3 separate regions of the Homo sapiens genome follow, and regions 1 and 2 are each reported to be linked to region 3. The links are microRNA targets in miRTarBase. Many come from high-throughput screens and were not tested one by one. Region 3 holds a microRNA gene; each other region holds the end of a gene's coding sequence.

The links. Region 3 holds the annotated microRNA hsa-miR-548bb-3p (CAAAAACCAUAGUUACUUUUGC, at 1,986-2,007, opposite strand). A microRNA usually pairs through its seed, bases 2 to 8, with sites in the 3' UTR of a target mRNA and lowers its output. Matches are read on the target gene's strand: a 7mer-m8 pairs with bases 2 to 8, a 7mer-A1 pairs with bases 2 to 7 and ends in A, and an 8mer does both.
Region 1: miRTarBase lists FAM169A as a target of hsa-miR-548bb-3p. Seed matches in the 3' UTR shown: 7mer-A1 at 3,276-3,282 and 7mer-A1 at 3,154-3,160.
Region 2: the mRNA of PURA is a reported target of hsa-miR-548bb-3p. Seed matches in the 3' UTR shown: 7mer-A1 at 3,233-3,239.

Annotation. Positions count from the first base shown.
Region 1 is chr5:74,778,129-74,782,197 of GRCh38, forward strand. FAM169A (family with sequence similarity 169 member A) reads right to left here. Exons shown (of 13, transcript NM_001376049.1): 13 at 1-3,880. The coding sequence ends at 3,332. It overlaps NSA2 (NSA2 ribosome biogenesis factor), which reads left to right. Exons shown (of 6, transcript NM_014886.6): 6 at 1-1,985. It also overlaps the pseudogene RNU6-1330P. Among named protein-coding and RNA genes, the nearest start is that of NSA2, 13 kb to the left of the region's middle.
Region 2 is chr5:140,114,829-140,118,897 of GRCh38, forward strand. PURA (purine rich element binding protein A) reads left to right here. Exons shown (of 1, transcript NM_005859.5): 1 at 1-4,069. The coding sequence ends at 322. Among named protein-coding and RNA genes, the nearest start is that of PURA, 2.8 kb to the left of the region's middle. RefSeq lists enhancers at 1-448, 1-328.
Region 3 is chr3:60,615,830-60,619,898 of GRCh38, forward strand. MIR548BB (microRNA 548bb) reads right to left here and starts at 2,041; the gene lies at 1,976-2,041. All of the region lies in intron 4 of FHIT (fragile histidine triad diadenosine triphosphatase), which reads right to left. It also overlaps the pseudogene MTERF1P1.

The DNA of each region.
Region 1 (4,069 bases), not on the chromosome of region 3:
ACCAAAAATACTATCTTGTAAGGTACAAAGAAAGCTTGATATTAAGTATGAAAACATAAGCATAACATTTGTAACTAATCACACCCATGAAAGACGACTAGATGACACCTGAAACATTTTTCAAAATACTGTAACACAGATGAGTAATATTAGTATAAATTTTTTATGTACATTAAGATCTGTTTCAGTTTGCTGGTGTGACCAAACCTTAGAAGGTAATCCCAAGGGATAAAGCAGAACATAAGAGCAGATATTTAGATATTAGTACAGGCTCAATTTGATGCAATCATAAACCTTCAAGATTTCTAGTCACTGAAACCCCATTGTAGGTAGTGTTCTGGAGTCTGCTATAAGTAAATCTTTAATGACTAGATGTTTTCCTTACCATCTACACTGAATGGAAATACCATGAATATAGACACATTTTAAGTAGAAGACTGACGTTCTAAATCATGCTGTTTGATTTTATAAAAAAATCATAATAGACCCTCTCACCTTTAAAAGTTGTAGAGGAGCTTTATAATAAATTCTTAAATATACTAATTTCTGTGATGTCTAGCAATTGAATAATTTAAACTTGAAAGAACTAAAATACTAATAACCATCTGCTTTATATTACACAAGGAAATATACACGTATGTACATAAAAAGTGAACTCCCTTCACAAATAAGTTCACAAAGGACTATGTGTAATGTGACTGGACATTCAACAACTAGACTAGCCGGTTGAAATCACATTTTCAGTCCTCTGTAATTGTGAAATTTTTTCTAATGCCTTGCAAAAACTACAGATAACTGATTAAGTTCATGTAGGTTCCTTATTGAAGATAAATTGTGGTATAAATTCTATACTCAAGTTACTGAACATGAGAGTTAGGTTTTTCCAAGTGATCTAACTTTTCCCTCTATAATCTATAAACCCCAAAATAACAATTTCTGTCAGAGAGAATCTGTAACAGAAGTGTTCTTGTGTGCTGAACAAAAAACTTCTAAATTGTTTACAATTCACTTACTATTTAACCCAAACAAGTTTAACAAGAATAAGTTTATACTGTTAGCCCCCAATGGTCATATATGATTAATAAACATTTTTTGTAAACTCAACTATATTCACACATCAAGAGTTGAGCCAGTGAGCTCAATCTTTAAAAAACTACACTTGTCTAAAGAAAGTCTTTTAGTGCTCACTTCGGCAGCACATATACTAAAATTAGAACAATACAGGGAAAATTAGCATGGCCCCTGTGCAAGGATGACACAAATTCATGAAGCGTTTCCATGTTTAAAATAATTTGAAAAGAAAGTATTTTAAACAAATCCAAGTAAAAATAAAATATCTACAAGTGTTTTCAAATCTAAGAAATGAAACATGTAAAGATTAAGAATTTACTGAATCTTAACAGAGTATTTCCCTTTGTGATATTGACAGAAGTTTCTCATAAAATGTATAAAACAGCATAAATGTTTGGTAGATTCACTAATAGTAGTCATACTTTTTTTTTTTTACTTAGTATTAGCATTTGTTGAAAAAATAAATGGCCAAAGTGCTTTAATTTTCATTTAGAATGAAATAATCTGGCTTACCTTTGACTAATTAAAGAAAATATAGGGTAATACAATTGTTCAAAATCTAACACAAATAGGAGCGTTTACTATTTTTGTCTGCTTTAAGATTTTAACTTGATCGAAAATACCAACATCCCCAAACAAAATTTACTGACCTGACATCAGCTTACTATAGACTGAATACACTTTCAACATCAGTCCTTAGCTACCTCAAATAATGACACAAAGTCTTAGTTTCTTTTGCATAAGGATCAAGATCAAGCTATTTTTAAAACAATTTAAATGGTCTCAAAACATTCTCCAACTTAAGTGCAAATTTGAGTACACATAATATTTCCAAAGAGTAGAACTGTTTTTAGATTATCTTTGGATTCTAATAACCATTTTGTCCATTTTTAAATAAATTACAAAAAATAACAGTTCAGTGTTTTTTTTCTTCAAATTTTCCTAGGCCTTTGTTATGGCAACACAATATATACTTAACAGGCCAGCTTGCAACCAGTACTCAGTACAAATCAAAGGATGATTGAAGCCTCCAATATGATTGAAGCCCTTGTAACCACAGCTCCCCCAAAGGCAGTTTACCCCTGCCATATAGGTCTAACACTGGGGGCAGTTTTACTCCTGCCATATAGGTCTAACATTGTGGGGTGCACCTCCAAACCTACCCAAAAATGGACATCAAGGGCATAAGCCGGCAGGCAGGAAGATCTGTTGATTGGAGAATCACTCCATGAGTTACAGAAGTAGATGAAAGCTGTGGGGGAATATAAATAAGACTGTAGAATTAGGGAGGTGGCAAGATTTAAGGAGATGCCTTAGGAAGGAGCCTCATACTTCTGAAATATAGATGTTAACTGGGTTGGGATAAAAGTAAAATCTCCAGCTTAATTTATCTATCTGATCAGGACCAGAAGTCCAAATTAAACCATGTCTCCAAAGTATAGTTGTGATTTTTACCTGATTAAAGGTGAAAGTCTAAACTTCTAGGCGTCTGCACATATGCAGACAAAAAAAATTACAGCAAACTAATACTTCAAATGAAATTTTAAATAATTAGTCCCCACATGCCACAGTTAAATCCCTGACAGTACTGTTAACATCAGATGATAGAATGAATCAGAAACAGATTTTATGTGTACCTTTCCATAGATAGTGAAGTCAAAGGAAAAAACTGCATCTATATCTAGGATTAAGAGGCCAAAACCAAAATATCTTCATGAACCTTTGACCGTAAGTTTCTGTTTTTGTGCTCTCATTTACTTGAAGTTATATTTTTTCTAATTTATTGACACTTATTTTTGTTTAGGCATGCCTACATTTTAAAAAATTGGTGATTAGTTTTGAAATTTAAAACTTCTAGAACCCTCACCAAGTTTTACTATTAAAACCCTTAGTATAAAAGATTTCTGTGATCCTTATAAGTAATGGAAATCCTACTACTTTCACAGCTTTTTAATTATATTTTTGAAATAATGGTCAGATGTACCACCTGATAAAGAAAATATAATATGATCTGGTTTCCCAAAATTGAAACATGGTTAATAAAAATAAAAAATTGCATTTACCAAAAATAGCCTGGAAAATTAAAAACAATGGTGAATTCTACGTTCTAAAGGGAAGCAAAAAACTGCATAGTAAGTAAGTTCAAATTGAAATTTTGGAAATTTTTGTCCTGTGCCCCATGCTGTTTATTAATTACCATATTTTAAAAACAACAACTATGTTACAAAGAAGAGGATTTATCATCCACTTTCTTCTTCCTTCAGGTCAGCTTAGCTTTCTTCTTAGCAGGTCCTTTATGCCCTTTGGCCTTTCTTCTTAAATTCCGCCTGTCTACCACAGGCACTTCCACTTCTATTTCCTCTGAGCTGCTATCCACAGCTTTTTCTGCCGATTGTGTAAACTGATCCAGTTGCTCGGAAGATGCTTCAGACTGCTCCTCTGACTGATTCTTCTGTCCTGCATTCTGTGAAAATGGCACGTCTTCAAGTTCAACCTCTATCAAAGAACTCTGAGGAAGAGCAGTAGATGTTTCCTGGGGCTCAGATACCCCCTCCTCACCCTGGTCTTCCAATGAGGAAGTAGTATTAGGAGACAAATTCTCAGAGACCGGTTCTTCGGAAAATTCAGCTATCACAGAGTTTGGAAAACCACCATCAGATCGTTCTTCATTTGACATAGTAGCAACATTGTCTGAACTCCCAAGATGTGCTTTCTTTCTTGGAAGTAGGGACAATTTCTCTTCCATGTGCCCCTTTTCATCAGATGTGCCTTCATCCATCAACATTTCTGAGTCAGGTATACGTGGGGTCTGAAAATTAAAAACCTGGTCAACAAATAAACTTGTACTACAGTTCTAAAAATAAATTCTCAGGCTCTAATATGCAGTGACACTGAACTAGAATTTAATTCGGTATTCATTACTCAAAATCGAGTATTTTTTTGAATTTCTGTTCTGCTATATGTGTATATATTCTGAATACAACTCAATTTCTTCAAA
Region 2 (4,069 bases), not on the chromosome of region 3:
CGAGCTGCCCGAGGGCACCTCCTTGACTGTGGACAACAAGCGCTTCTTCTTCGATGTGGGCTCCAACAAGTACGGCGTGTTTATGCGAGTGAGCGAGGTGAAGCCCACCTATCGCAACTCCATCACCGTGCCCTACAAGGTGTGGGCCAAGTTCGGACACACCTTCTGCAAGTACTCGGAGGAGATGAAGAAGATTCAAGAGAAGCAGAGGGAGAAGCGGGCTGCCTGTGAGCAGCTTCACCAGCAGCAACAGCAGCAGCAGGAGGAGACCGCCGCTGCCACCCTGCTACTGCAGGGTGAGGAAGAAGGGGAAGAAGATTGATCAAACTGAATGAAACCCCCACACACACACACATGCATACACACACACACACAGCCACACACACAGAAAATATACTGTAAAGAAAGAGAGAAAATAAAAAGTTAAAAAGTTAAAAAAAAAAAAAAACCTGTTAACTCCAAGGGAGCACCACCCACAGAACCTCCACCAACTGACAGTTTCTCTTCTTGACTTGCCACCCATCGCTGGATGTTGTCCACTTTATCCACCATATAAAACAGTAAGCAGCTGCTAAAAACAAAAAAAATACAAAAAGTAATAACATTATATGAACTGTGTTTCCTACTTGATTAAAAAATATAAAGAACTGAGTGTTTATTTCCCTAATTAACCAAGAACTTTTGTACACGTTTAAGCTATTATTATTAAAAAGTGTTTGCAAAATGGTCAAGATTATAATATTGCTGAATTATATAAAAGTCCTTTTCATGTTGAGCTAACATTTGACTTTAGCACAAAAAAGAGATATTTTAGAACACGTAAAATAATATTTTTAGTTTTTCTCATTTTGTTACCAAATTTCAAACCTTACATGGAGGTTATTATAGTATATTTGACACCCTATATACCTGTGATTAGAGATGTGTATATATATGAGGGCTAGGCATGCTGTGTGTCTGAGCTTTGTCTAAATGTTATGCAGAAGTTTGTAGAGTTAAAGGTACGTAGGTTTAATTCATGCAAGGTAAACAATAAGTGCTCTCTTTTATACAATATGCATTGCATCTGGACCTTAAACTTATAAAAATGGTCAGTGAAACTTCTGTGAACATGAAGAAATTATTAAAAAAGGCATTTAAATGAAATTTGCTAAGTTGTGATTTTTATGGTTGGAACCAAAGTTATTCAAATAGTAAAAGGAAAAAGAAAGAAAAAGGAGATCTCCCATAATATTTTTCTGCATCTGTTTGCTTTGACTGAGTAGGCGTTTTGTCATTATTGTGTATATGAGATGTACTTGTATCGTTCATAATATATTTTTTTTATTATGTGTAGAAAGATTTTAAAAAACTAACGTGCAGCAATTTCCAGTGAACCTGTACTTGGACATCAGGTAGTGAGTCTATTTGTGGTCACTAGCACTGTCTCCTAAACTTGTAAGAGGTCTGAAGCTATTCTTTGATTTTTGCTAGTGCTATTAACTTATGTAGACCTGTTAAAAAGCAGAGCAACACAATTATAGTTATCCTACTGAGCCATGGATTCTGAGTTTTGTTTTAAAAGTGAAAGCCAAGTTGGTGTATGTAAAGGATTTCCATGTAGCTGTGGTGCTAGTTATTACTGGCTACATTATATGCTAAGTGTATTTGTGTTCCCCAAGTGTACAAGCCTTCTATCAAAAGTATGTTCTATAACTCATATATTCAAGGTGTAGGGTATGAAAATGCAAAGTTTAGGAGAGCACTTTACCAAGCTGGTGTCCTCCAAACTGAAATTGTTTGTAACGATAGTCTTTTACAGGTTTTCCTTTAAAGATGTTTGTGTGCTTTTAATTGACAACTAACTTCTTGCTGCTGTATAGTAAAATATTAATATATTTTTATCATTAAACTGCTGCATGACTATCATCTTTGAGTGAAGAGAAAATGTTATAAAAAAGATGCCTTAAACAGTACATTTTGGTTTGGAATTCTGTAGAAAGTATTTTGGTAAAAAAAAAAAAAAAAAAAAAGGGTCTTGTCTGACAGAGAGTTCTGGGGATGGAATTGTTTCTTGGCAAATCCAGCCATATAGATCTAACTGCTGTATGTATAAGACACCACCTGTAGGAGCGGGAAGGTATCAGTGCTTCTTATATTGTAAAGCATTGGCCTAGGAAGGCAAACAGTTGTCTTTTTGAAGGATTTTTTTCTGCTGGTCCTTTGGGTTTTGATTTGATATTTTTATGCTCCCTGGTTGAGTGTGTTGTCTTCGTTTTTGAGATCTACTGTATGTGTTGAATAACAAGCTATTTTCATTGTACTGTGCATTTTCCCATTAAATTGTTTGCTTTTAATATTCAATGTTAAATATGAGGTGACCGTACAGTAGTTAGGAGTTTCTTTACTTACAAAATCACTGGAAATGATTAAATTGCTTTTCCCCCTCCCCAGAGGTGCATTTTTCTTATTTCCATATAGTAAAGTTGAGCTTTTACAGTGCATAATGTGACATTTGGAATGCTTATCAACTGCATGTAAACATTAATAACCTGCACTTTTTTGTCTTAAGGTTTGTTGAGCTGTTTTGTTCACTGTACTTTAACTGTGATATGGAAAAGACTGCATTCTCTGTGCTGTTACTAATTAGGAAAGAGAATTGCTTTGATTTTGTCTCTTGTTTACTATAGCTTCTTAAAGTTAAGCCTTGTACTACAGGTTGTTGGAGTACTCCTAGATCACTGTTTCATAGTAGCCAGCAATAAGTAGTGCAAGTCAACAAAAACACAGCAAACTTAGGCAAAGTGTCCTTTCTTTGAGATGCGAGTTCTTTCATGAGGTTTTCTTTAGGGCCAGAGTTACCTAAAGTGAAGCCTTTCTTATCTATAGACTTCAGATTCTGCTTGGAATCCCACCGGCTCAAGAAGCACATGTATTGTGCAATTAATTGTCTTTACACTAAAACAGTTTAATACAATCTAACTACGATTTTGAAACCAGTGTCTGATTTATGGTCAGTGGGTTTAAAAAGAAATCCACATGCAGATCTTTTAAGACTTAAAAAGTGATCATAGAAAAGACTAAGTGACTGTAAAGATGCTCTTTTTTTAAGCATCTCACTTTACCTCCCCAAGCACCCTCCCAAACCTTGTCTTCCCTCTTCTGTTGCATCCTTTCCCTACCCTTCCCTCCCAGGTGCTCGGTACTTTACCTAGTTTCTATATATCAGTGTTTTATGTTGGAATTTTTCCTTGTTTTTATTTTACTAGTTGGTAAACCCTGTTTATGCTGAAACAAATAAGGAAATGGTATATTTGACCATATGTGTTATTCATAGAAGACAGTATGATCAAATGTGCCAAAAACAAGCAAACAAAACTTAATTCCTGAGAAGTATGCCTTATTTTTATTGATCTGCTTTGTCTTACAATTAAGGTCCAAGAGCTTGGTTAAACTGTATTATTTGCCTAAGTATAAAAGAAAACTTGAACTGCATTGCAATATTGACGTTCTTTAAAATGAGAGACACTGTCAAGTAATTTAATCCAGAGATCAGCCACCAGATTTGAAATGCTTATGTATGTGTGTGTGTTTGGAGTTGTTTTTTTCTTTTAAATCACCAAATTTTTTTTAAGCTACTTTTTATTTGTGCCTCCTATTTATCATGCTGATGTTAGAAGCAGCAGTCATCCAGCCACAGAGGGAGCTAAAGTTAACTAACCAGAACTGTAGAAATCATTATACATGCCTTTGACAACAAAGGAAGTTCATAAGAAAAGCCATGTCGGCTTTTCCTCTACTAGATACAGATTGGAGGTAGATGAATATTTGCCAAATGGAAAAAAAGACAATGCTAGTCAGAAAAGACAAACTGTTTTCCAGCTTCTCAAAAAGCCATGGAGAGTAGAAACCAAAACCAACAGGGAAATAAAAAACCTTGAAAGTCTCACTTTCTAGTTGTCCCATGCAGGGGTTGAAATTTGATTCCAAGCGGAAAGTATATTATGTTTTTTCAGGCCTTCACATCTAGAGAGATGGATAACTTCCAATTTGATTTTTCAGGTAATAGAGAAAGCTGCTAGTAATTTTA
Region 3 (4,069 bases):
TGGCAAGAACTACATTTCCCAGAATACTCTTCCCTGGATGGTTCGAGTGAAGTTTACCAATAAGAATAGAGTGAGATGTGGAAGAAAAAGAGATAAAGAAACTGTTCTTTGGAAGTCAGACAAATGTGCACAAATGAAGTCTTCCTCATTGCTGTACATTGAGAGATGTCCCTGCTTTCCTTATCGAAACTCTGATCTGTCTATGAGTTATTAACACCCTTGTCAGTAATATCACTTGTCATTAGGTCACAATTCTTGGGACTACCATTGTCTAGGTTCTTCTATTCCACATGCTTTGTTTCTGTGCATGTTGAGTCCAACATGTGTGTATATTTTAGGTAGTGTCACCTGTTTGGATATCCACAAGACCTATTTACACAACACCTGTTACAAAAACTCACCCCAGATGTTTTCTTGTTTGTTCAGTTTAATTTATTATACAAATCTTCACATTTGAAAATATAAGCAAAAGTGATTCTAAGCCACTACAGGAAATTCACAAAAGCAACACCTGGTGTCAACATATTTCATCACATTTTAATGATTATGATGTGCACAGGTGTGCTGAAAGTTTCTCCTCCATACTCTTTGATTCTTTTTTAAAATTTTTTTAATTATACAAGTAATACACTTCTAGAACTAATAAGCAATCATAGCAAGCTTGTGGGACAAAAGTTAATATACAAAGTCAATTGTCTTCTTATTGCTAGCAATGAACAATTGGGACTTGAAATTAAAAACACAATACCATTTACATTAATGCCAAAAATTTAAATACTTAGGTATAAATCAAACGTGAAAGATCTATATAAGGAAAACTATAAAACTTTGCTGAAAGAAATACAAAAGATCTAAGAAAAAGGAAAGCTATCCACATACGCAGACAGGAAATCTCAATATTGTCAAGATATCAGTTCTTCTCAACTTGACCTATACATTCAATGCAACCTCAGTTTTAAAAATCCCAAGCCAAAGTAAAAGCCATCTACGGCACACAGCATTCCGAAAGGTTTGGGCTACCTGACTATTATGGCACCAAGAAATCTCTGGTATATGAGAACTTTCACTTTAATTCAAAATGTTGGATGACCTGATTTTCAGCAGAAATGCTCTTCAAATCAGTTTCACTTAGGCTTTTTGGTGTGAAGTGAAACGATGCAGACAATGAGCTTTGGAGAATGAGGAACCACTGAATAACTTACTATGGAAGTGGATACTGACATGGCAAAGAAACGACAGCCTGGAGTTTTTAACAGAATGTTCCCAATGAGCAGGACCTGAAGATGTTTCTTCGTTCCAAAGGAGCTAGCAAAGAAGTGATTGTTAGCATCATATCAAAATAACTAAAAGCTATAACACACACTCTTGAACGTCTTTCAAAACAATGGGATCTATGAAGGATTATGATATCAGATCTTGATACTGTAAATATTTTGGGCCATTCTCCTGAATGCTTTCTTTTGTCCCATGAAAACCTAAACTTAGGGATTCTATGAGTTCCTCTACTCAGCTGGATTTACCTGTAAATGCCTTTGTTGATTGTTGACCAATGTCCCTTGTACCTTTTCCAATAGTCTCGATCTGAATAAACAGATGGTTAAAGTTTTGCAGGAAGTATATTTTTCATTGGGTCACAATGATCCCACAGATTTTGTAAGAAAGATGATTTTTTAAAACCCTTTCATCTTAATTCAGGGTACCAAGCAGGTAAAAACTAACATTGAATTTTTACAGGCAAGTTTCAATTTGAACAGTAGGGAATTGCTATTTTAATATGTGGTCCAGGAACCAAAATCCTAGACCTTTCCAATGACTATGCCAAAACAAACTACACAAATATCAAACAGAAGCTGTTTTCTCTCTGAGGTACTGAAGAAGAGGTACAAAAGCTTGCCTTAAGTTATCCAGATGTGGGGAAAAAAAGTTATCCAGATGTGATCTTTTGGCAGAGAAAAAGTTTAGTGAGAAGAATATTTTAGCTTGGTGCAAAAGTAACTATGGTTTTTGGGCAAAAACCATAGTTACTTTTGCACCAATCTAATGGATTGTCTCATAGAATAATAAATTAGCCTTCTGTGAAAGTAATTTGTGATAACTGAAAAATCCTTGGGTTCTGGATTCAAGCATAAGTACTTTATAAAGTCAAATCAAAGAATTAGTAAATGCTGGCTGTAACTTGAGGACATCAAGCATCACTCTTCTACTCTGGAGTTAAAAAAAAAAGATACAAAGTAAATTTAAAAAGTTAAGCAGAACACTGGGGAATTTTTGAAAGCCAGTCATATAATGTAGTGGTATCTTTTCATTTTGAATTTGGGCCTTTCAAAAAGGAGGGGTATGATTTCTTAACCACAGATATATATATGTAATAATTCTTTGGCTATTTTGTTTTACAGGTTTATGGAAACTCATGGTTGATATGCTCAGGTGCAGTCCTCCTAGCTACCTATTTTCCAGTTTGAATTACTCCAACATACCATTATTTGATACAGGCTGTGCTGCTGTAGAGATGGTAGTGCCATGGTGATTTGCTACACAGATCATCCCATCACCTAGGTATTAAGCCCAGCATCCATTAGTTACTCTTCCTTATGCTCTCCCTCCCAGCAGCACCCCTCCAACAGGCCCCAGTGTGTGTTGTTCCCTCCATGTGTTGACGTGTGCTCATTATTCAGCTCCCTGTTGTAAGTGAGAACATGTGGTGCTTGGTTTTCCGTTCCTGCGTTAATTTGCTGAGGGCAAAACCTGATTACTTTGAAAACAAGTTCTACTGTGGCAGGCAGAATCATGGCCACACCTAAAGATGTCAACGTTTTAATTTGAAGAAGCTGCGAATATGTTATGCAAAAAGATTTTGCAAATGTGATTAAGTTGAAATTTGATTAAGTTAAGGGCCTTGAGATGACCTTGAATCATCTGAGTGGACCTAATATAATGCTAAGGGTCCTTAAAAGTGGAAGAAGGAGGCAAAAGAGGTCAGAATGATGCTGTATAAGACAGACTTGACCACTTTGAAGGAGGTGAAAAGGAGGCTTTGAAGAAGGAAGGGACCATAAGCCAAAGAATGCAGGGGGCCACAAAGAAAACTGAAAAGCCAATGAAACAGAATCTCCCCTAAAGGCCCCAAAAAGGAATGCAGTACGGCTGGTACCTTTTCAGCCCAGTGGGCCCAGTATCATACTTCTGTCCTACAGAACCACAGGATGATAAATTTGTGTTGTTTGAAGCCACTGAGTCTGATAATTTGTTACAGCAGCAAAGATTAACATAGCAACTAAGTAGATGATTTGTTGCATTATAGGTGGTCACAAAATACAATCCTTTAGTATCATGTATTTTTTCCTCTTACAAGAGTAATTACATTTAAAAAAGCTATCTACTGTTCTAGAATCACTGTCGTTGTTTACAATAAAGTCCTTTAAATGTGCGCATAAAAAACTAAATGTGAATAAAATGTAAATAAAGGAATATTTTTGCCTAATAAATACAAAGAAAATGAAAATCCCAGCAACCTATTTTTTGTGGATATTAACAAACTGATTCTAAAGTGTACATGGAAAAGCAAAAGATTCAGAATATGCAAGACAATATTAAATGAGAAGAACAAAGTAGGAGCACTGACACTATCCGACTTCAAGAGTTAGAACAAAGCTATAGTAATTGAAACAGTGTGGTATTGGCAAAAGCCACCAAATACATCAGTGAAACAGAAGAGAAAGCCCACATAGTCTTTTCCACAAATGGATCTAGAACAAATGGATACCCACATGCAAAAAAAAAAAAAAAAAAAAAAAAAAAGAATCTAGACAAAGACCTCACACTATTCACAAAAATTGACTCAAAATGAATCACAGACCTAAATGTAAAATGTAAAACCATAGAACTCCTAGAAAATAATGTACAAGAAAGTTCAGCTGATCTTGAGCATGAAAGTGACTTTTTATATATAATACCAAAGGTGCAATCCATGAAAGAAATCATTGATAAGCTAGACTTCATTAAAATTGAAAACGTCTCCTTGATATAAGACACTGTCAACTGAGAAAGACAAGCCAAAGGCTAGGAGAAA